Linked DNA regions of Homo sapiens: all the other regions are linked to region 1. Evidence: fine-mapped expression QTL. A gene starts in region 1. Each other region holds a variant in brackets. All regions are shown on one strand. Distances are from middle to middle.

Evidence for each region.
Region 2: its variant is fine-mapped to the expression of SFXN5 in tibial nerve (GTEx, PIP above 0.99).
Region 3: its variant is fine-mapped to the expression of SFXN5 in esophagus mucosa (GTEx, PIP above 0.99).
Region 4: its variant is fine-mapped to the expression of SFXN5 in unexposed skin (GTEx, PIP above 0.99).

The regions. Positions count from the first base shown.
Region 1 is chr2:73,067,892-73,073,682 of GRCh38, forward strand. SFXN5 (sideroflexin 5) reads right to left here and starts at 3,821. Exons shown (of 14, transcript NM_144579.3): 1 at 3,713-3,821. The coding sequence starts at 3,814. It overlaps RAB11FIP5 (RAB11 family interacting protein 5), which reads right to left. Exons shown (of 6, transcript NM_001371272.1): 6 at 5,491-5,791. RefSeq lists a silencer at 2,760-3,549 and enhancers at 3,690-3,739, 3,940-4,419.
Region 2 is chr2:72,987,209-72,992,999 of GRCh38, forward strand. SFXN5 (sideroflexin 5) reads right to left here. Exons shown (of 14, transcript NM_144579.3): 10 at 1,050-1,140. Among named protein-coding and RNA genes, the nearest start is that of EMX1, 73 kb to the left of the region's middle. RefSeq lists a silencer at 1,892-2,091. The variant T/C (reference allele first, on the strand shown) is at 2,685.
Region 3 is chr2:73,031,692-73,037,482 of GRCh38, forward strand. All of the region lies in intron 3 of SFXN5 (sideroflexin 5), which reads right to left. Among named protein-coding and RNA genes, the nearest start is that of SFXN5, 37 kb to the right of the region's middle. RefSeq lists an enhancer at 4,933-5,791. The variant G/A (reference allele first, on the strand shown) is at 2,824.
Region 4 is chr2:72,995,415-73,001,205 of GRCh38, forward strand. It overlaps SFXN5 (sideroflexin 5), which reads right to left. Exons shown (of 14, transcript NM_144579.3): 8 at 5,017-5,073; 9 at 3,535-3,600. Among named protein-coding and RNA genes, the nearest start is that of SFXN5, 73 kb to the right of the region's middle. RefSeq lists an enhancer at 5,726-5,791. The variant G/C (reference allele first, on the strand shown) is at 3,023.

The DNA.
Region 1 (5,791 bases):
CTGTAGTTTTCTTACCCATAAATTGGAGATCATTGCACCTGCTTCACAGGGTTGTTGTGAAAATTCAGTAAGTCAATACACAAAAAGGCTGGAATGATGCTTGGCTATCGTCACCATCTTATGGGGAGAAAGATGGTCACAGACCACCAACACTCATCACCCTTTCTTCACACTCTGACCCTCCACACCCTCCACCCTCTTTCTGCCCGTCCTCTTGCACAGGGAGACACTTGAGGGAATAAAGAGGAGTTCTAGAGCGACTCCAGGGAATAAGGAAAGACCTTGGTAACAAATCCTGCAGAAAGCGGTGAGATTAATTGGGGAATAAGGGTCATGTCCCTGGCATGGGTGCTGGGAATGAACCCTGGATTATCAACCACCTTGAAGCAGGCTTCTGTCAGGCCAGCACAAGGTACTATGAGCATATATATTACACAACTATTACATGCCAGGGCAGGACACAGAGATGTGGGCTGGGCCCTAAAGGAGCTCATCAACCCAGTACATATGTAGCCAACCTTTGTGTCTTTAGACTCACCTCCTTAGAGACACCCCAACTCTGGGATGTCTCAGCACTGATGAACCTTACACTGTCAAACATGACACCACTTGCAATTTTGTAAGATCCCTAAGGGACAATTTGGAGAAAAGTTGGTCCACCTCCCCAGTCACAACCTTACAAGTCAATTTAATTCAAGTCCGCAAAGCCCTACTGAATTGTCTCCAGGATATTCATGTATATAACAAATCTTCATTAAGCACCTCTTAACTGCCAGGCACTGTGCTGAGCCTTGGAGAGTCAACAGGGAGTAAAGACAGGCACAGCCCCCACTTCTGCAAAGTCCATAGTCAACAGAGAGACACAGATGGCAAAGAAATACTCATCACAAATCAATGTATACACCGAGAAAGGTACTTTGCAGTAAGCGAACACTCAAAAATCCAACCTGGGAGTGCAGGAGGCTTCTCCAAGAAAGTGATGCTTCATGGATACACCAGGGATGAGGAAGAATGGGAACAAGAGTTGGGGGTAGAGGAAGAGGTGATGTTCCAAGCAGATGGCCCAGTGGTGGGAGGGAACGTGGTGGGTTCAGAGGCTGAAAAGCAGCCAGTGTGATGTGAAGGAGGGTGCGAAGTGTGGGTGGGTGGGTGGTGGGATTCAAGGAAGAAGTAGTCAGTGGGGTGGGCCATGCATACTTTGGGGGCCCCTTCAGAAGTGAGGTCTTTATCTCAGAAGCAGGGGAAGCCATTGGAGGGTATTTAAATCTACAAGGGCGTAGGGAGTCCCTTGATCAGATCTGCACTGTTGGGACTCTGACTTGCAGAAAGAGGAAGGACTGGAAGAGGGCCAGAGTGGAAGCAGGGAGACCTGTTGTGAGGCTACTGCAGTGACCCAGGAAATAGACGATGGGGGCTTGGTCTAGGATTCTGGCAGTAGAGATGGGTGGACTTGAGAGCTGTGTAAGAGGTAAGATCACTGGGCCTCTGGTTGCATTTAAAGGGTGAGGGAGAAGAAGGAAAGAACACAGGCGGCTCCCAGGTTTCTGGCTGCATTGATTGGGTGGCAAGTTGGGCTGTTTGCAGAGCCAGGGAGCCATGCGGGAGGAGCAGATATGGAGGAAAGAGAAGATCCTTAACATGGATGAATCACATGCAACGTGCTTTATGCAGGCCACTATGCTGGAGGAGGGGAGCTTCAAAAGTGCATACAACAAACACTTTTACTGCCTTCAAGAGCAGTGCCAAAAAGAAGTACCGCTATGGCTGCAGGAACAGGGTAGCCTAAAATGTTTATCTATGGCTCTAGAGCAGTGCTCACAGCACAGGGCTCAGTCATATAAGCCACTAAGACGTATTTGATAAATGTCTGTTAGGTCACTGAATGTCCCTAGTGCCACATACAGATAACAGACACCAGGACAAAAAGAAAAAGAAAAAAAAAAAGGAAACACAAATCTTTTACTCGGCACATTACTATATGCCTAACCTGTCTCCATCAGGGTAAGACAGAGGCAGAGAAGGGCAAGATCAGCCCCTTCTTGCAAAAGGCCTACAGGGGGTTTGAGGAAACCAAGTCGTCACACAGCAAACATTTAGAAGACCACAGGGCAGACTGTATGGAGAGCTATGAGGATCTGACTCAGGTGGCCAAAGAGATGTGCAGGAGGAAGCCTGCGATCTGATGGGACCAGAGAAGAAGGGAGCAAGTGTTTGCCAGAGAGGCAGGCCCGACTGAGCCTTTAAGAACGAGCAGAATGGGGGTGGGAGCGGGGACAGGCAATGTAATAAGGTCACTCAAGTCCAGGCAGGGACACCCCGACACTCTCGCCCTAGATGGCCTCCTACACTGGAAGGAAGATGCCAGTCTCGCCTCGGATACCTACATGCTGAGATGGCCTACTTTTAAAAGGAATTAAAGTCCTGTTAAGAAACACTGGGGACATTTTTTTCAGACGGCTCAGGAGCCAAGTTCCCTAATTATCAGCAAAGCTCGGGGCACCCCCTTGCTGGAACCAGTCCCCTTCCACCACAACAACAAAAAAAGAAAAAAAAAGCCACCGCACCGACCTTAGCACAATTTCCTTTCTTCCTTCAAAGTTCTTTTCTGGCCGCCTCGGCTGCCGCCCACCCCTGGCAAGCCCCGGTTCACTTCAGCGGTCTCTCTGCCTGTTTCCTAATAAATTCCGTCTCATTGGTGCGGGAGGCGCGGGAGCCCGAGGGTCTGCGGCGCGGGAGCGGCCCCTCCCCGGCTCCGGTCTCCGGGCCCAACCAGGCGCCCGGGCTCCGCGTTCCACCCCCGCCTCCGCAGTCTAGGGCCGAGTCGGCGACGCCCCAGAGGAGGTCCCGGAGGGAAAGGACCCCTGTCGCCGTGCCCCGAAGAGCCTGAGCGGGTGTGCCCAGAGCCAGTCCCCGGCGGCGCGGGGGCCCGGGCGCGGGAGACCCTCCGCGGAGAACACAGCGAGGAAGAGGCTGGGGGGGGGTTCCCAGGCGGCAGCCCCTCGGAGGGACGACGGCCCCAGGGGATGACACAGCGTTTCCCCCGCACGCCCTGGCTGCGTCCCCTCAGGGCATCGGCCGGCTTGCTGCGTCAGCGAATCCTCAGCCCGAGATGGAGAGCAGGGACGGGGGACGCCGGACCGCCGCTCGCCTCGGCACTCGCCCCCTCAACCTGCTGCGCGCGCCGAGCCCGGCTTGGGGGCCAGGGCTGGGGAGTGACCGCGGGGCGCGACGCTGCCCGGCGGCACCGCCAGCAGCTCGAAAGGAACGTCAGTCCCCACCGGGGGAAAAAGTTAGAAGGCATCCCGGCCACGCCAACTTCCCATCCAGGGCCAGACTAGAACTTTGCGTCCCGGGCGGGCAGCTGCACAACCCGGAGCGACCCTGAGCAGCCGCTCGAAGCCGGGCGCTCGGGACCTTGACCGCAGCCGCCGGTGGCCAATCACAGGGCGCCGCGGGCGGGAAAGGCTAGAGGGCGCGGGCAGTCGGGGAGTGACGGCGCCAAGGGCCAATAGGAAGCCAAGATGGGAGTCCGCGCCCGCCCCGTTGACCAATGGGAAAAGGGTGACTGTGACCGAGGTTCCCCCCCTGGCGCTAGCTGCAGGCTCCGCTGGCCGCGGGTGGGAGACCCTTGGGCGGAAGGGGACTTTGGAGGGGAGTTTGCTCGTCCTCTCTTTGCCACCCGCCGGCCCGCAGACCACAGCCCGGTCCTCACCTGCTGGAAGCGGGGTTTGCCCAGTTGGAAAGGAGGTGCATCGCTCGAGGCGCTAGCGGCACTAGCCGCCGCCGCCGATGCTGTAGTCGCTGTATCCGCCATGGCCACTGACGCCCGCAATCTCCGGCCCTTTTAAAATGTCCCTCCTCGGCCCCCGCCACAGCTGCCTCTCCCGATTGGCCCTAATCAACCGCAGCGAGCGGGAGGCGCAAGGCGTTGTGGGGAGTGTAGTTTTTCGCGTCGCGGCGCTTACAACCGTAGACTGCGGAGAGTTGCGGCCGTCCGGAGAGGTCTCGGTGCCCGCTGTCCGCGTTGCAAGGTGCAAGGTCGGCAGTCCAGGAAAGGTGTTCCTGTACGACGACCACGGGCCACCCCTCGCTGCTTAGTTGCCCCCAGAAGTTAGAGTTGCTGCCGTGGGCGTCGCTCCTGGGGCCAGGCAGCGCAGAAGGGTCCCATTCAAGGGGGAACCTGGGACCAGATGGGCAAAGACTCCAGGCGGAGTAGGGTTAACCTCGGAAGGCTTTCTCCAAGGAGTTGCACTGCGGACCTTCTCGTACTTTCCTCCGTCGCCACCCTGCCCACTCGTCCTGTGCTCTCCGGCTGCCCTGACACTCAGTTCCTGGAGCATGCTGGGGCCTGCCCGCCTCCCGACCCCTGAACATTCTGTACCCGGAAGACTAAATCTTCGCCTGATGCTGGCTTTCTGGCTTTAGCCTAAACATTGCATTTCCCAGTCCATCACTCTGCTTGCACAAAATCCCACAGAGGCTCCGTGGCACCCAGCACTTCTCTTTTGCACTCACAACTACTTACTGTTCTGGACAGTCTTTCTTACTGTAAAGTTCACAGGGCAGGGGCTATGACTTTTTGATTCACTTCAGTTTTCAGAGCCAGACATAAAAGGGCTCACAGTAGAGACTCAAATAAGTGTTGGCTGTGAGTTCATCAGTGGGGGATTAAGAGCCCTGGCAGCTTTCACCTTGTCTGGCCAACCAAGGAAGATCCCTCCTGGGCCTAATTCCTGGGCAGGAGGAGAACTTGGGACTAGGGTGGGTGGGGAGGGTGTTAGGTAAGGGGGAGTATTACAGATTGTGGAGTAAGGATCAGTATGGATAATAAACACATACAGTTGTAGAATGGATTAGCTGAAGATTCCCAGCTGAATTACCTGGTCAGTGAGCCAGACTTCGGGAGCTGCCTGTTTTGCCCAAGATGACAGTAGAAATATTTGGTCTTCTAGGGAACTCCACTTTGGGTCTCATTAGTCTCGTGGTGGAGTGCAGGGTTGGCTCATGTCTGCCAGTGTTTCTGGACACTACATGAGCTGTAGCAGTCAAAGTTTTTCATCCTCTAGTAGTTGAACCACAAGAAACACTTTTCATAAAGCTAGGGGGAGATTCTAGCTAGCCACGAAGAACAATTTGTATCTTGGATTTGTATCTTATCTTAGAGATTCTATCTAGCCATGAAGAACTATTTGTATCTTGGATTTGTATCTTATCTTCCCCTGCTAGACCATGCAACTTGAGAATAGGAATCCATTTCTTACCCTCTGTATTACCAATAAATGGGCCCATCTTAGGTGCGCAATAAATGTGGGTACCCTGGGAGTCAGAAAAGACTAAGTTCAGGCTGCTGGGCAACACTGTGCTGCTGCCCCCTTATAAGGGGCAGGGACAGTGTCATCCAAGAATCCCATCACCTTGATTTAAGGTGCTTTCTCCCACAGCAGCCTCCTGTAACTGTTCATTCCAAAACAGGAACACAACAGAGCCACCTGCAGTACATGAATGTTTTATTCTTCATAAAGTGCTTAAAACATGAAGAACAAGCTCTTTATAAAGAGCCTTAACTAGGAAGACAAACAGCAAAGCAGAACCATGCCTGCTCCCTGCCCAACCCACCTGCAACTTTCCTCCAAGTGTGGCTAGGAGAAGAAACATCAACAAGGACCCTGGGCTTCGATTCAAAAACTCCTCTGAAGCCATCCATGCCCTGGGCATTAGGGAGGCCCACAAAGGTCAGGGCCAGGGCTGGGAGTGAATAAAGCCCAGAGGAATCCCCAGTAGGGGGGGTGAC
Region 2 (5,791 bases), 81 kb before region 1:
TTCAAGCCATTCTCCTGCCTCGGCCTGAGTAGCTGGGATTACAGGCATGCACCACCACACCCAGCTAATTTTTCTATGTTTAGTAGAGATGGGGTTTCACCATGTTGGCAAGGATGGTCTTGATCTCCTGACCTCATGATCCGCCTACCTCGGCCTCCCAAAGTGCTGGGATTACAGGCATGAGCTACCACACCCAGCCTAGATGTGCTTTTTAACTAATGAATTAAAAACAAGATCTATCAGTTGATGTATTAAATATGAATTAGTGACCGGGCATGGTGGCTCACGTCTGTAATCCCAGCACTTTGGGAGGGTGAGGCAGGTGGATCATGAGGTTAGGAGTTCGAGACCAGCCTGGCCAACATGGTGAAACCCCATCTCTACTAAAAATGCAAAATTAGATGGGCATGGTGGCGCATGCCTGTAATCCCAGCTACTTGGGAGCCTGAGGCAGGAGAATTGCTTGAAGCTGGGAGGTGGAGGTTGCAGTGAGCCGAGATTGCACCACCATACTCCAGCCTGAGTGACAAGAGTGAAACTCTGACTCAAAGAAAAACAAAGAAAAAGAAAAAAGAAAGAAAATATGAATTAGTGTTGAGCATAAATAATATTTTAAGACCTCTGTAACAACTGTAATGTGCCATGAAAACATCTGTGATTTCTACTGGTGACAAAGTCACAGGTCCTGCTTCTGACTGTGGTTTGCTGCCTGCATTCGTAACGGAAGGAAATGTTAAAATGCAGTTAGAGGTTAATGTAAATCTTTTCCCTGACCAAGCTCACAGGATCCGCTGCATTCTGTCTACTGACCCCTTGGGGGTCTGGGACTGCAGCCTAAGAACCCCTATGCTGAAAGCAGAATCTCAGCACAGAGCTGGTCAGTGGGACCCCATGGTCTTGTCTTTTAGCTAAACATATTACACCAATTCTCCCAGCTGGGTGCCCCCTGGGCATCAGGAGAGGTGTGGAAGGGTCATCTGTCTCCCTGGGAGCCCAGCGGTCCCCCACACCCACCCACAGCACACATCTATGTGGTGTGCAGGTCTTACCTACAGCAGGGAACGGCACAAACCTCTGGATGAGAAGGCGGGTGGCTGGGGTGAACTTGTTGGCTTTCTGAACCAGGACATTAAGGCCCACCTTTGAAAGAAAAAAATAAAAACACAGAAAAAGTACATGATGCTGCAGTGGCTTGTGGGAGGAGGGGGCAGAACTGGAGGAACATCAGAGAGTGAGGGATGTCATCTTTCCCCACAACTGCACCTCACACCCCTAATCCTCAGCGTCACCTGAGGTTGCAGAGCTCCAGCGTCGCTGCTTAAAGTACCACTGCCCAGTCATCCCAGGTAACTGGCCCATGAGAAAGAGGGAGAGAGGTAAAGCATCAGAGACATACACACACACACACACATACACACACATTTACACACTCATACACACACACTGCAGAGGAGAAAAGGGATAGGATGCTGTGGCAGTTGCTCGTAGAAGAATACATACTCCATGAATAAATGAAGTGTAGGAAGGCCTCATTCCCACCCCAGCCCTAAGCACCATCTTTCTGAAACCCCATGGTACATGCAGGTGTGGGCCCAGCCAGACCATAAGGGCTCAGGACAGGGAGACCCCGACACCTGCCCACAGGCTGCAGGACTAAGCAGCATAGCTCAGGGCAGGATGGAGGGTGAGGCGGATGTCCTGGACTCACTGTCATCGCCTTCATACCTGTCACCTGGCCCAGGATGCCAGACACCCCACCCCAGCCCCTGCCTGGGGTCTTCGTCACTCCAGTCCATCTCCTAGGCTCTTTCATCTTTCGAGAGCACAGGCTTTCTCATGTGTGCCACACCAGCTCCTCTCTATGACCAACGTGTCTGAGAAAGTGTCATCTCCTTCCCACAGCAGCCTTGGCCTCCATAACCTCACTTCCCCTCTCCCCCAAAAACCCAAGTTCAACCCCGAGAGTCCAGTTTGCTGCCCATCAGATCCTCCGTGAGCCTTCCAGCCATGGGGCCTTTGCAGTGCTGGTCCCTGTGCCTGGGATGCCTCCCTCCTCCGCTCAGTTCACACCTGTTCTTTCAGGCCCACCCATGAGTTCCACCTCCAGTGTCACTTACTAGCAGTGGGACCTGAGGCAGGTAAGTCATTTCATCTTTCTCTGTCTCAGTTTACCTATCTGTAAAAAGGGATAGTAATACCTACAACACCCCAGGGCTGGTATAAGAATGTATGTAAGTGGTGGGTGTGAGCTTGGCATATAAGAGACCTCAATAAATGAAGCTATATAATCATGATGTCACGGGACCGGATGGGGTGACTGCACCTTTTTCATCTTTGTATGTCCACCACTTAGGGCTACACTCACTGGCACATAGTACACGCTCAATAAACTGGTGACTGAGGAATAAATGCAGGAACCAACAAACATACGACGGCATGGAAAAGGCAAAGGCTGGGAGTGGGGCTTTGCGGAGGAGAGAAAGATGGGGTTGGGCTAGGCAGAGGAAAAGGACTTTCTGGTGGAGAAATGCATACAAGTGCAGGCCTGGAGAGAGAAAAGACAAGATGCATGAAACCAGAAAAGGAGTTGGGTTGCAGAGGCCTCTGCTTCCCCAGACAGAGGCCAAAGCCAGCCCCTGTGCTGTCTTTTCTGGGAAGCGTGGGAGGAGCCGTGGCAGGACTCC[T/C]GGCCTGACGGGCCGGGGCAGCCTGCTCTGAGGTCTGGCACGCCTGGCGGCTCAGCAGCCCACCCTGTGCCCTCAGGCCTGGCTCTGGCCTTAATGTTGTGGGTGGTTGGGGAGGACGCAGAGCCTTGGGAAGGCCTCCAGGGCTGCCAGGCGCCTGCCGCTGTTGGGGCAGGGTGCAGCAAGGCAGAAACAGCCCAGCCCAGGCTGCGACTGTGAGACCCAGGAAGACAAGGAAGTGCTGGTCCGCCAGCCCCGGGGCAGCGCAGCATTCCGTGGAGCCAGAGTACTTCCTGGCATGCCCACCCTGGGCTCTCGGGAACACAGCCTCCATCTTAAGTCTCAGGCTGATCCTCAGAGTCCAATCCTTGTCCTCCCAGCTCGCTCGAGGGAAGGCTGGGAGGCAGCCAGGGGCATCACGGCGTGGACACACTTCAGTGGTACAGTGGGCAGGGCTGGGGAGCTGCCGGCTCATACTGGGCCCTGCTGCCCCCGCCACATGAATAGAATTCATCAAGTCCAGGAGCGAGTGACTCAGAAATGGCCTCCCTCACCCCCAAAAAAGTGCATTGAGAGAAAGTGTGGGAGGAAGCTGGAGGACACGCAGACGGGCAGTAGCAATGAAGAGGAGGGGGGCTCGGGAGAACTCAGTGAGCACTTCCTACGTGAGGCCACTCAGCACATATTCACATGAAATATCTTAATGAGATCCCCACAACAAGGCTTTTAGATAGACCATGTTGGCCCTTTTCACAGATAGAGACAGGTCCAGAGAGGTTAAACAACTTTGCTCAAGGATAGACATCTATTATGAGGCAAGTAAAGCTAGCATTTGAACGCAGGGCCTGCTAATTCCAAAGCCTTGCTCCTAACCAGGGTGCTATGACTTTCCCATTGTCTTCCACCTGAGGGAGGGATGCTTTAATATCTCCAGGCGTTTGAACGGCACATCTGCATAGCAAGCACCTCCCTGACAATGGCCACCTTGGGGCTGGGGTCCTAACGAGTGGAAAACAGAAGGCAGCTCCTGCAGGGAAGATAGGGCCCTTGAACCATCCCTGCCCCCAGCAGCCAGAAGTCAGAAGATCTGGGTTCAAAATCCTGCTTGACAATTTAAGAAGATATAGGAAGTGCTGGAAGAGGCGGGGAACAGGAGCCATTCACGGAAGTGAGCAGAGAGGCTGGGACCCTTCCCCATGACAGCCTCTTGGGGGTAGGCAGGGCTGGAGAGCAGCGGGAGGGAAAGGAGGAAAGGTGACCATCACATTTCCCTCCCCCTCTCCAAAGCCTCCCCCTCCCTGGTCGGCCATTCTTCCCACTGGCTAGGCCTGGCACAGCCCAGAGTGTAGGGAGGAAGAACGAAGAGAGAAAACAGTGTCCTCGTCCCAGGTTTCTTCTGGCCTCTCCTTCCCTGAAAGTCACCAGGGTCTCCCAGCATGGATGGGGTGACATATAGTGCGGCACACATATGTTTCTGAGAGCATGGCCAACGTGCCTGCGCCCAAGAAAGGGGCTGGGGACCAGCAAAGTAGGGAGGAGACCTGGGCATGTGTGTAGCTGTGAGCTCATGAGGAGTCAGTGAGGTCACAGTGCCCACTTGCCAGTGATGGGCCCAGTGGCAGGGAGGGCGTGGACACGGAAAAGGCAAATGGCCACTTACCCTCACCCCTTCCCAGGCCCCAGCCCAGGTCTTACCGCCCCAGCACCTAGGACAGCCACGGCCTGAGAAGGAACCCAAGATGGCTGCAGACCAGGGGTTAGGAGCCCGTCTGTTCTGGTTCCTCAGGGCCCTTTGGCCTTGAACATTTGGTAGAGCCCGTTAAAATTAAAAAGCCAAGAGGCTGGTGGCTCTGAATGCCAGCTCGTTTTTCCCTGGCACGGCGGGTCCTGTTTAAGGGAACCAGCTGGTATTAATGGCACACAGCTCATCACAAACAGCAGCTAGCGATCAGAAAAATCAGAGCTAATAATCGGGTTCAGGAAAGATAATGAGATGTGGAACAATTACTGCTGAGGGTCCCCCAGGATCTGTTTTAACAGCATCCAAATAAGCCACAAAATAGAAATTAACCAAACAGGAGCTCCATTTTGGTAGATGGGGAAAACAAACAGGGTGTGGATTTTGCACAAGAATTTCTTATATGGCCAGCAGACAGGGCTTCTTGGAAAACCAGGGCTCAGGCCCCACAGGACATCAGCAACATCCTGAAGGAGGGAATAGGCCTTCTTGACCACCTATCTCCAAGGTCTGGCTACTGGGCCAGTGAATTTGCCATGAGCAGCTGACAGGAGACCAGGGGAAAAGGAGGGAAGGCCGGCTTCCTGATAGTCCCCACGGAGATGGGAACAGGGCTGACCAGCACCAGGAGCTATGGGTGGGGTGGGAGCTTCATGACACCAAATCTTTAGTGTCATGAGCTACACAGCTGGTGGCTGTAGCCTTAAGTACCAAGGGCTTTCCGGGCCAACAACAGGCCAGCAAGGAGACACTGGATGAGGCTGGAAGAATGCCTGCATCCCTCTCCCCGCATCTGTGCCCCCACTGCAGCCTGAATATCCATTGCCTGGAGGATGCCTCTGTGTCCAAGGGCTCTAGGCACTCCAGCTTCTCGCACCCCAAATGAAGGTTGTCTCGTTCTTCCTCACCCACACCCCAGCCTCCTCGCCCATTTCCAGCTCTGCTTCTCATGCCAGAGACCTCACAGCGTTCTGGGCAGGAGCCTCCTGGGGCCCACGTGTAACCATGGCTCCCTGGTGCATCTCCCGGATGTCATGAATGCAGCTGTTTGCTCTCCCTGCTCCCAACACTCAGCACGCAGCCTCTGTCCCTGGATGACAGTGCACCTCCTAACCAGGCCCCCTGTTTCCACTCTTGCCCCCATCCATCTGCTCTCTACAGCAGTCGGAGTGAAGTCTGAAAACATGGCGACTTGCTTAAAGCCTTCGGTGACACTGGAGGAGCCACACGGCCCTGCGGGACTGCCTGGCTTGCTTGCAAGGCTCTGGCTACCTGTATGAGGAGGTGCCGTGAGGGAGTGGGCCCAAGGGTCATGAAGGCTCCTGAGGAAGGGGATGCCTGCCTGAGCCCTGAATAGGAGGCTAGGAAGGGA
Region 3 (5,791 bases), 36 kb before region 1:
GAGGAACATCTCCATTTTCAACAAAAATTCCTAGTCATGATCTGATCTTGTTTGGGCTGATCCCATCACCAGGCTGCAGTGACAACAGTCAGGATCATGGACTTTGGCCCTCTCTCAGTCACTAACTTACATAGCCTGCCTGTGCAAGTTACCTCACAGCTTGGACTTGTATTATTTTTAAAATTAGGCAGAAGCAGGGACAGGAGGTAGAAGCAAGTCTCTCCAGGGCCCCTTCCTGTCCTACGGTGTATGAGGCCACGCCCAGCTTAGAGGGAGAACAGGACAAGGACTCAGGTCTGACTCCTTGGGTCTAGGCTTTTCCCTAGGACCTGCTGGATTAAATGTTGACTTTAAGGGGTTAAATGTCAGATGCAAAAATGGCAGCAGGTAATGTACCACCCACAAGCCAAGAGCTGGTTGCTAGTTTGAAGTTTCACAAGCCAGTCCTGCAAACAGGTGATGGGGGAGGATCATCCTAGGGTGTCAAGAGTTCGACGGGACATCCTAGGATATCAAGAGTTCAACGTCTTCTCACTAGACCACTGAAGCATCTCCACTTTAAACTACAATTCCTGCTTAAGACCTCATCTTGTGTGGGCTCAGCCCATCTCCTCTGTGCCTCTGCTGAGCATAAAAATATGCAGCTTTGATCCCTTGGGACTTACTGGCTCCAACAACAAATCAGTGTGGATATGAGACTTTGAACCTTGCTTGATTTCTCAACTTGGTAAATAAGAACATGGAGCAGGTGTGGAGAAGCAATCCGGGTGAGAGGTGGCTGGAAGATCCCAGAAGTTGGCTAATTTCAAAAACAGCCAGCATCTCAGCTGAAGTGCCATCTGAACCTACCTGAAGTTCGGTGTAGAGTCCAAGGGAGGGGCAGAGGACACTCACCAACTGGCCTTCTCGGGCAGAGCGGGGCACACCCCCAACACCCAGAGGGAGGAGGAACAGCCCAGCCCCACCCCCAATCTGGCTCGCTCCCCTTCCCCTCTGCCTCCTTCCAAGCTGCTTCTCCAAACCTCCCAAGGCAGCAAAGACAGAGCCTATTTAAAACAACCTCCAGAAGGTAATTAAACAGAGCCTGAAGGGGATCCTTCTGTAAGGCAAAGAATGCCTCCATAAAACAAACAAAAAAAACTTCCTAATTTATCAGTTGGGCCAATCGCATTATACCTCACCATTAATTTTGTTGCCATGGTTACTCCCAGGTAATATGTACCTATTGCAAGTCTATGTCAGGTGAGGGTACCCCCAATTCTACAGACTCACGAAAGAAGAGGGACTCTTCGCCTAGTTCTGCAGCATAGCACACAGCAGCAGTTGCAACTTCCCTATACACGCAGTTTGTTTCTATCCAGACCTGGGTTTAAATTCTAGATCTCCCGCTTGCTGGCTATGTGATTTAGGGCAATACGCTTAATCTTTCTGAGCCTCCTCTTCCTCATTTGTAATATGAGGATGTGAATATTTTCAAGGTTATTGTGAAAATTAATAATTAATTTAACAAATTTACTTATTTAACAAATATTTATTGAGCATCTACTATGTGCTGAACACTGCTCTAGGTGCTAAGGACACATCAGTGACAAAAACAGGCCAAAATCTCTGCTTTTGTTGAGTTTAGAGGGTTGCACAGACAGACAAACGATAAGCAACACAAACAATAAATAAGCACATTTTCTGATATGTTAGAAGGAAAAGTGCTTCAGGAAACTAGGGAAAATAGACCAGGACAAGAGGATAGCAAGTGTGAGCAGGTGGCAGAGATGGAGATTACAGACATAAGTAAGATAGTCAGGGTGGGTCTCACTGAGGTGATATTGGAGGAAACACTTGAAGGAGAGAATGAGTCATGCAGCTATCTAGTGGGAGATTGCTCTGGTAGACAGAACAGCCAGTGCAAAGGCCCTGAGGCAGAAGTGGGCCTGTCTGGTATGTTTGAGAGACAGCAAGGAGACCAGTGTGACTGCAGTGGACCAAATAGGGGAGAGCAGTAGGAGACAAGATCAGAGAGGACTGGGGGCTTTGCAGGCCAGGTTAAGGACTATGGCTTTTACTCTAAGTGCAAAAGAGGAACACTATAGTTTCTATTAGAGCAGTGGTTCTCAACTAGGAGGTGGATTTTGCACCCAGGGGACATTTGGCAACATCAGAAAACATTTTTGATTGTCATGACTGGGGAGGGGAAGCTAATGGCATCTACTGGGTCACAGCCAGGCAGGTTGCTAAACACCCTCAGTACACTGGACAGCCCTCGCAAAAAAGAATAATCTGGCTCCAAATGCCAATCGTGCCAAGTCTGAGAAACCCTGGAGCAGAGGAACAAACAATGTCCTGTATAATTTCACAGGTCACTCTGTGTGCTGTATCAGCAATGGACAGAGGAGCCCAGGTAGTATAGGCAGATCATCCAGGAGGCCACTGCAGGGACCCAGCCCACAAATGCATCTACAGCACTCAGTACGACACCTAGCACATCATACAAATGACTCACCTCCTACTGATCACTTGCCTGTTCTGTGCTACCAGTTAGGGCCATGCTGGGCCTGGCCCAGAGGGGCAGGGTGCTGACCAGGATCCCCAGAGCTTGATGCTAGGAGTCAGGGTAAGACTAGTGGGTCAGCCAAGCCTTCCCTTCGGCATCTGACAAACCTGCTGACGCCCACAGAAGACTTGGGGCACAAGTATTTTTAAGCCTGCCTCTGGTATTTGCTCTGTTATTTTCAGCAAAGCCCAAACACAGCTGACCCCATTGCCTTCCTGCCAGAGAAGACTTGCAGGATCTCTTGCATCCCAGCAGCTCTTTCTCCTAGGCAGGTC[G/A]CAGACAGAAATCCATCCTGCATGGGGGCTCTGAGCAATCCATACATTCATTACCCTGGGTGCAGGGTAGGCACTTAGGAAAGGTTGGCTGGTTCCCAACCTCTGGGGAATGTTGAATGATGGACAAGCCCAGCCACTCAGGAGCTACAGTGGTTCCCAGTAACCTGCTCCCCACACTCCCCATCACTCCAGTTGCTTCCGAGCTGATTTCCGTAATAGCACTTATTCCTCCCCAGTGCACTCTGGCACTGCCACTGACTGATCCTACCACAATACCACTGTCGTGCTACTCCCTTGCTCAATAGCTTTCAGTAGCTTCCTCTTACCCCACACAATGCATCCAGCATCTCTGCCTGGTTTTCAAAGACTTTCTCAATCTGGCCTGTAACCTCCAACTTCCTTCCCAGCTTTCTCTTTCTTGTCTCTTCTCTCTGTCTCTGTCACTTACAGAAGATGTCTCTCCCATTAGATCTAAGAGGCCCAGTGTCAGATCCCTGCCCCACCACATACTAGCTATGTGACCTTAGGAAAATAATGCAACCTCTCTGAGTCTCACTGGAAAATTGGGTTGATACAGGTACCTACTGACAAGTTTATGTGAAGATTAGCTGAGATAATATGTGGAAAGCGCTAGTACTTATGGTGCAATACCTGCCACTTCGTAAGCATGCAGCGAGCGGTGGCTCACCATGGGGAGGGGTCTTCCATATTTAGCCCCACCCACCTCCTCCATCCACACCAAATCATTCTGGCAAAGCCCCAGCATATACAAGTGTACAGATCAGAGTCAACATTCAGAAACTTAATGGCTGTGTCTATGCTTACATTTTTGTATACCATGGTTTTGTTTTTTTAACTGATAGCTACAGTCCTTATTACGGTTACTAGCTCTTCAAATTTTCACCTGCTAAACCCAAAAGTTAAATTATACTCATTTTTATTTTGTCCTCAGAACCAGTGATTCATTGGTATCGCAATCTTTTTTTTTTTTTTTTTTTTTTTTGAGACCGAGTCTCACTCTGTCACCCAGGCTGGAGTGCAGTGCTGTGATCTCGGCTCACTGCAACCTCCACCTCCTGGGTTCAAGCGATTCTCCTGTCTCAGCCTCCTGAGTAGCTGGGACTACAGGTGCATGCCACCATGCCTGGCTAATTTTTGTATTTTTGGTAGAGATGGGGTTTCACCATATTGGTCAGGCTGGTCTCGAACTCCTGACTTTAGGTGATCCACCTGTCTTGGCCTCCCAAAGTGCTGGGATTACAGGTGTGAGACACCACGCTTGGCTGGTATAGCAACCTTTAAACAAGGTAACGGTCCCTGGAGGAGAGAGCAGCCACCCACAACAGAAGACCAAACCAAGGCCATCAGGAGCAAACAAACAATCAATACATTTGCGCATACCCACTGGTGAGGTGTTGTACCTGGAGGTCAGGTTAGATGACAAACTGGGTAAAAAAAGAGAGTGTCACAAGTTAACCAGCACTGCCCACAACACCAGGACAGGCCTGCAGGCCTCAGGACCCAGTTGCAGGCTTCTGGCCCACACACCTGCAAAGGCATGAGAGCAGGCGCAGAGCCCAGGTGCAGGTGAGGCCACTGTCCAGACTGAGAACAAGAACCACCCGGGCCGCTTCAGATGAGCAGGGCCAGCCTGGGCCAGGAACAGTGACTGTTAACTATGGATTGCCAAGCCCCCCAAGCCCTGAGCTGCCATGTCACCACTTATCCCCTCTGCTCCTGTGTCTGCAGAGGCCAGAGGAAGGTGTAGATTGGCTGACTGAAGCCCAGGGAGGGAAGCATTTGTGAGAGCTGGTGCTGGGGGAGCCAGGAGGCTGGGGGAAGGGAGGGAGAGGGAGGATCTGCCTCTAGGGGGCCATAGTGGCAGGCTCACACCTAGAGCACTGTGCTACCCAGCCACCAGATGGACACTGCAGGCATCACCAACATGAGCCAGAATCGGGAAGCACAGTTAGTGCCAAGCTGCCCCTCCACCCAGTTCCCCTCCTCCTCAGCTCCCTTGAGGCACATGGGGGCTTTCAGGACAGAAAACAAAGGAGGCCTGGGAAACAGGACAGGCAGCTTCAAGCTACTGAAGGGAGCAAAGAGGAGGAAATGTGGCTTCATTCCCCAAACTCTGGGAGCTGGAAGGGGTCCCAAGAGGCCAACCTCAGCAAGAAAAGGGCAGAGCGGAGCCTGGGCCAGGAGGAAACACATGGTCAGGAGGCCATAGAGGCAGGACCCAACTCTCACAGGTCTCAGAAGAACACGAAAAGGGCTGGGGACTGCTTCGGCCTGAGTAGGGTGGGGTACCAGGTCACACCATCCAGGCTCTTAGGTGCTCATGGCCAGAGAGAAGTCCCATTGCTCAGGGAAGAGGAGATCGCAGCCTGCCCTCCCGGCTGACGGCTGCCCATGACTCAGCACGCAGTGCACACGCCTTCAGATGGGCCCCATGTAAGCAGGCACTGCGGGTCTGTCACTCTCCCAGGGCCCTGCACAGGGGCATCTGGCCAAGGTGCTGCTTCCGCTCATGCATTTGCCCTCTATTCCCATCACCATGCTCCAGTCTAGCACATTCGCCCATTCCCTCCTTCTGTAGGGTCTTGCTCCCTCGATCTCCAGCACAGTGTGCACCTCCTTGCCTGGACCACCCCCACCTGCTCTTCACCAGCCCTGTCAGCCCTCATATCTCAGGGGAGAAATCTCTTCCAGATGCCCTCAGTCTGGGAGGGTCACCCCTTCCACGGCTCTCCCATGGTATCATGTGCTTTCACTGTCACTGCCTGGTTTCTGGTGGTGTAGACAGGAACTTCATCCAGCTTCCTACCTGCTCTATCCCCCAGGCCCTACCCTCGCTTCTGGCCCATAGAGATGGATAGAAGAGAAAAAAGGTGAGAAAACCTACGTGTCAGCCTATGATGGCTAATATTTGACTAACAGAAGTTCCAGAATGAGAAAAAGTGATGAA
Region 4 (5,791 bases), 72 kb before region 1:
CTGCAACCAGCAGGAGTCTTCACTTGGGGGCATGCAAACTGGGGATCCCTGACTCCAGGGTTGCTGGCCAAGGTCAGGGCTCCTCTGAGTGGGGCAGGGAGCTCTTCAGGGCCCCCAGAGGAGGCTGGCCTCCACTCCAGTTTGCCCTCTGTCCCAAGGACCTGCTTGCAGCCTGTCGGCCCCCATCCATGCCGCCTGCTTGTAGGGACTCGTTTTAATTAATGCCAGAGCTGGGCCAACCACTGGGGCCGTGACACTTGTTTGCAGGTCATCTCCTCCTAACAGGCTTGCCCTGGGAGGGGATTTGTCACTAATTGAAACAGAGATCAGTTAATGAGGCTGTAGGACCTGGGGTTCCAGAGAACAAGGGAAAGGAAAATAAAATAAAGCCTCTTTCTTCAGAGGTTTTGTGACTTACACACACAAAAGAAAAGCAAGCAAGCTGCCGATTTTCCAAGTCAGAAACTCCACTCCATCTGCCGGAGTTAGACGCTCACTGTGTGAAGACGTCAGGCGGAGGGACGCCGCCACCACTAGGACTCGCAGATCGGAGGGGCCTCAAGGCCAGCGATCAATCAGTGGCCTAATTAATAAGTATTTATGGGGCAGTGCCCTGTGCTCCTCTCCATGGGGGAGAAGCCATGGTGCCCGTCCCTGGTTAACTTGTAATCCAGTGGGGATGAGGCTCAGACTGCAGAACACTAAGGGGACAGGGACACAGTGCGACTGAGTGTGAGTGGGGAGGACAGGAGTTTCCAGGACTTGTGAGGAGGGAGAGTGCTATGGGCTGGAATGGTTGGGGAAAGCCTTTCGAGGGGTGCTGGAGCTCACAGGGAGGAGAAAGGAGGGAGTCCCCAGCACAGGCACAGCCCCGCGTGAGGCCCCAGCCCCTGCCCAGCAAGAGCTCAGCTCTGGGAACCCCAGAGGGCTCCAAGTCCCCCAGTAACTCTGTCTTCAGAACCCATACCCCACAAATCTGTGCTAGGTTTGCCCTGGCAAGTGGTTGGGACGGAGCGGCTGATGGTCCCTCAGGTGGGGCAGTGAGGACTGGACACACAGAGGGCTCGGAGCTCTCAGAAAAAGCTGAGTTTTGTTTTTTTTTTTTTTTTTTTGAGACAGGGTTTTGCTCTGTCGCCCAGTCTGGAGTGCAGGGGCACAATCGTGGCTCACTGCAGCCTCGACCTTCCAGGCTCAAATGATTCTCCCACCTCAGCCTCCCAGGTAGCTGGGACTACAGGTGTGCACCACCACACCTAATTTTTTTTGTATTTTTTGTAGAGATGGGGTTTTGCTATGTTACTCAGGCTGAGAAGCTGATTCTTGTTCTCTGAGCCCCAGGCCTGCAGGTGAAGGAAGTCCACCAGGACAATGATCCCCTTCACTCAGGCCTTTCCATTCAAGGCCACTCAGCATCCTTCCCTATGTAGCCTCCTCCTCTCACCTTGCCCCTGAGTCTCAAAAAAAGGAAGGGGATTTTTGAGCTGCTAAGCTAAGCAGACCATCAGCTCCTCTCATCACAAGGAACAAGGAGGAGGTGACAAGAGTTCTTTCTCCCACTCAGGGGAGCCTTTGGCCTTCACCCACCAAGTCCCCAGTATCAGGGACCCCCAATTTGTCTGACTCCCAAATGAAGTCTCCTGCTGGGCTGCAGGACAAGCTGGGTGGCAGGTCAGCAGTCTCTTGGTGAGCCACCTGAATGTCTCACTTCTTGCTTTTGTGAAGACATAAGGATTTGGGAAAGAGATCTTGGGCATGAAATGGGACATCCCACTTCACAGCTATTTGGAGATGACTTGGTCTATGTGGGAGTGAAATAAATGAGGCCATTTCAGGACAACCCCAAGTCCCTCCTTTAGAAGAATGGTGAATTAAATTGTGGCGTATGGTACAATGGGTAATTATACAGCCGTGAACAGTTATTATACAGTATTTACTTAATGGCACTGGAAAGATGAGCAAAGGGGGTTTTACCAAAAGGTTATTGTATGTGAATTCTTCATTATATGTGAATGTTTTCTTTTTCATTAGAGATAAGATCTTGCTATGCTGCCCAACATGGCCATAAGCAATCCTCCCAACTCAGCCTCCTGAGTAGCTGGGATTACAGGGGCACACCAGCTTGCCCAGCTGAATGGTTTTGGGGTTTTTTAATTTCTTAAATTTTTTATTATTTATTTATTTTTTTTTTTTCTGGAGATGGAGTCTCACTCTGTCGCCCAGGCTGGAGTGCAGTGGCGTGATCTCGGCTCACTGCAACTTCTGCCTCCCAGGTTCAAGCGATTCTCCTGCCTCAGCCTCCCAAGGAGCTAGGATTACAGGTGCCCACCACCATGCAGACTAATTTTTGTATTTTTTTTAGTAGAGACAGGGGTTTCACCATGTTGGCCAGGCTGGTCTTGAACTCCTGATCTCAGGTGATCTTCCCGCCTTGGCCTTCCAAAGTGTTGGGATTACAGGCGTGAGCCACTGCACCCGGCCTTTTGTTTTTTTAAATGGGGTCTTGCTATGTTGCCCAGGTTGGAGTGCAGTGGCTGTTCACAGCTGCAATCATAGCACACTACAGACTCCAACACCTGGGCTCAATGATCCTCCTACCTCAGCCTCCTGAGTAGCTGGGACTACAGGTGTGCCCCACTGTGCTCAGCTATGTGAATGTTGTTTGGTTTTCATTTTCTAATTTTTTTTTTCTTACCAGTTACATTAATGTATTGTGTAATGGATGAAATGACAGAGTTGTGAAGGGGCCCTTCGCCCTCTGGAGTCGGCTATAGAAGGCCATCCTAGTGGGGATCCAGAGACAGCCAGACGTAGGTACAGGGGCGGGCTCAGGGGTGGGACAAGCATGCAGAAGGTCCTGGCAGCTTGAGCGTCCACTCTGGCTCTGGCCCAGGGCCCTGACTGTGTCACTTGCCCCTGGCCTCCTCTGGGAAGCAGGGAGCCACACCTGCCGTACCCTCACGCTCAGTCTCTGAACCTCCCCTACTGAGTAGCTGCTCTGGCCTCAAAGTACTGTGGAGACTCA[G/C]AGTGAGCCTAACGCCCCTGGCTTCGGGCACTGACAGGTCTTCAGGAAGAGCTGGACGTGTGACACCAGTAAGGCCATAGAGAGGGAAAAGCAGTGCCCCGGCAGCTGAGCAAGAGCTCAGGGGAGCAGGCACATGGGCAGGCCTTGCAGAGTCATTCAGAGGCATCCCCCCACCCCGCTCGCTCCAGCCACGTTACCGAGCATGAGGAGCAGCTCTTCCGAGCAGAGTGCTGGGCAACCGCAGCCCCACTCAAGACAGATGTCCTGCCTCAGTGCCCCCAGGCACAACCTCACCTCCCCACCTGCTCTCCATTACAGGGAGCACCAGGTTGTGCTCTGTCTACTGGAGCCTCTTCTCGGCTTGGAAAGCCTGTCCTGACTCCTCCACCCACAGAAACCTGTCTCCCAAATCCTTGCCTGGCCTGGCCCTCAGACAAGCATCCACCTGCAATGCTGAGCGGGGTGGCCCCAGAGCAGCAGAGCCAAGAAGGAGCAGGGGAGGGAGTACTCACAGCAATGGAGACGGCGCTGATGACAGCTCCCAGGTATCCCTGGATGAACTTGGATGCAGGTGAAGGCTGGAAAACAGAGGCAGAATTTCAGGCCTGCTGGGTGCCCAAAGCTCCCATACTTCCCCTTGTAAGCTGTCCCAGCCAGCAAGAAGCATCCTGCCCACCAGCCTGGAAAGTGGGTAGAAGGAAGAGGCCCCTCAGGACTCAAAGGGATCAGGCCACCCTCAGCTCAGTTCCCAATGCAGAAATATAAATCACCAGTATCCAGGGAGATACTGAAGGGCCCACTTCACTCCTGCCCTGTTCTAGAAAGGTCACTGGCAGACAGTGCTGGGTGGAGGTGGAGAACAGCAAGGCTAACATGGACCATTGAAGGCTGGGGCAAGCAGTCTTCAGTTTAGAGGCTAAATGTTTCAAGGGGGCCATTTGGCATCTGGAGCGCTTTCTAGGTGGAAATGCCAGTGTCAAGGCTCTCACAGGCCTTGCCAGCCCATGGAACAGCTGGGCTCCCATGTCAACAGATGATAGCTGCCCAATATCTCTAGAGAATAATATACCCCAAGTTCCAACACAGACAATTAAGAAAAAGCTAAGGAACTTGCCCTGTGCTACAACTGCAGGTCTAGAAGTGTCTGGTTTAAGATAAAGGGAGTCATCCAAGCAGAGATGGCCATATGTGAAGCCTATGAGAGAGACTTGGGGTGGAGGTTTAGATGTCAGGGGGCAGCCACAGCATATCAGGCCTCTCAATTCCTATGGCCCAGGCCAGCTCCTATTCCCCTCCTCTCCCCCAAGGTGAGCAAATGTTAGGACTCTCCTCTACCCCAAACTGACAGGCCCCCAAAGGGGACTTAGATGCATCCTGCCTTCTTTGCCTTTGAATTGAAGTTGGGGAGAGGTGGCCTTGCCAGCAAAGCAGGGGCCCAGCAGCCCTTCCTGGACAACAGAAGGGTGACTGGGCCTCCACCACAAGCTCTCCAAGGAGTGCAGGGGCTCTGGGGGGGAGTTACCAGCCCTGGACCCTCCCCACTCAGGAGCAGCCCTTCAGCTTGTGGCCAGCAGTCGGGACCTGGGAGCGCTAAGGCAGCTTCCAGAAATTTTGGAGGAAGCTTTATGGGAATTTTGCCCCCAAGTAGCTGATACCATCATGATCCAAAACCCAAATGTAAGAGCTACCCAAGAAGAATCTGAAAGCCAGCCGAACTCATCCCTTGCACTGCTCCCATTTAATGGGCCTTCTTCACTTCATGTAAACAGCCCCTCCCCAGAGGGCTCCTGGCCCAGAAACTGCAGCTGACCTCAGCTGAGTCATGTCTGAGTCGGCCACCCACCTGAAGGGCTGGCATTTTAAATAAGATATCTAGAGGAGGGCCATGCTTAACCAAGAGGCAGCCACTGATGGTGGCATGTCACGCTGTAGGGAGGATGACTGGGCCTCCCTAGCCTGAACCCCACCACTGGGGAGAGGGCAGTGATGCTCACCTTGGTCGCATTGCGGTTTGCATAGTTGACACAGGCATTGTGGCTCTGGTTCAGCCACTGAAAGGCAATGATGAGAGAAGTCAGGGAAGGAGTGGTCACCTCCCTGGAAGCCAGGCCTGGACCCCAGGAGGCCACACATCCCCAGAAAGGCACAGCATGCGGTCTCCAGCTCACATGGTGCCGCCCATGCTGCCGGTCAGCATGACTGACCGTCCTGGTTTGCCCAGGGCTGTGCTGGTGTTAGCACTGGAAGCCCTGCCTCTCGGGAAGTCTCTCGGTTCCTGAATGGGGTCCTGCGCACCCCAGTAGTCCACCTGATCCTGAGACAGTCACCTCTCTTGGAATGATGGCATTCACTGCCCCTGCAGACCCCACTGCCTTTGTCACACCATCTTTATTATATTACCTGCTGGACAAAAGTTGGCCTAGAATGACTGACAGCCCTACAATTCTTTCAAAAATCTCCCAGTCCAGTATCCTGCACCTCCAGTTCCCAGACACAGAGGCCGGCAGGAGTTTAGTTCAGGGAAGACTGACATTTTCTCCTAGAAGACAGACAGGTTTTCCTTCCTGCCCGTCTTTCTCTGCACACACAAACACAGAGATATCCTCAGTTTTCATGGCATCACAACCCAGACTGTCTCCAAGAGCAGGGACCAGGGTCTGTGATGCACTTCACAACCTCAGGTTAGGGGTGGATTTAGCTTCCTCAGCAGATGTGGGGGAGGCTGATGTCAAAATGAGGCTATGGGCCTCAGGGTCACTGGCCTTGGGA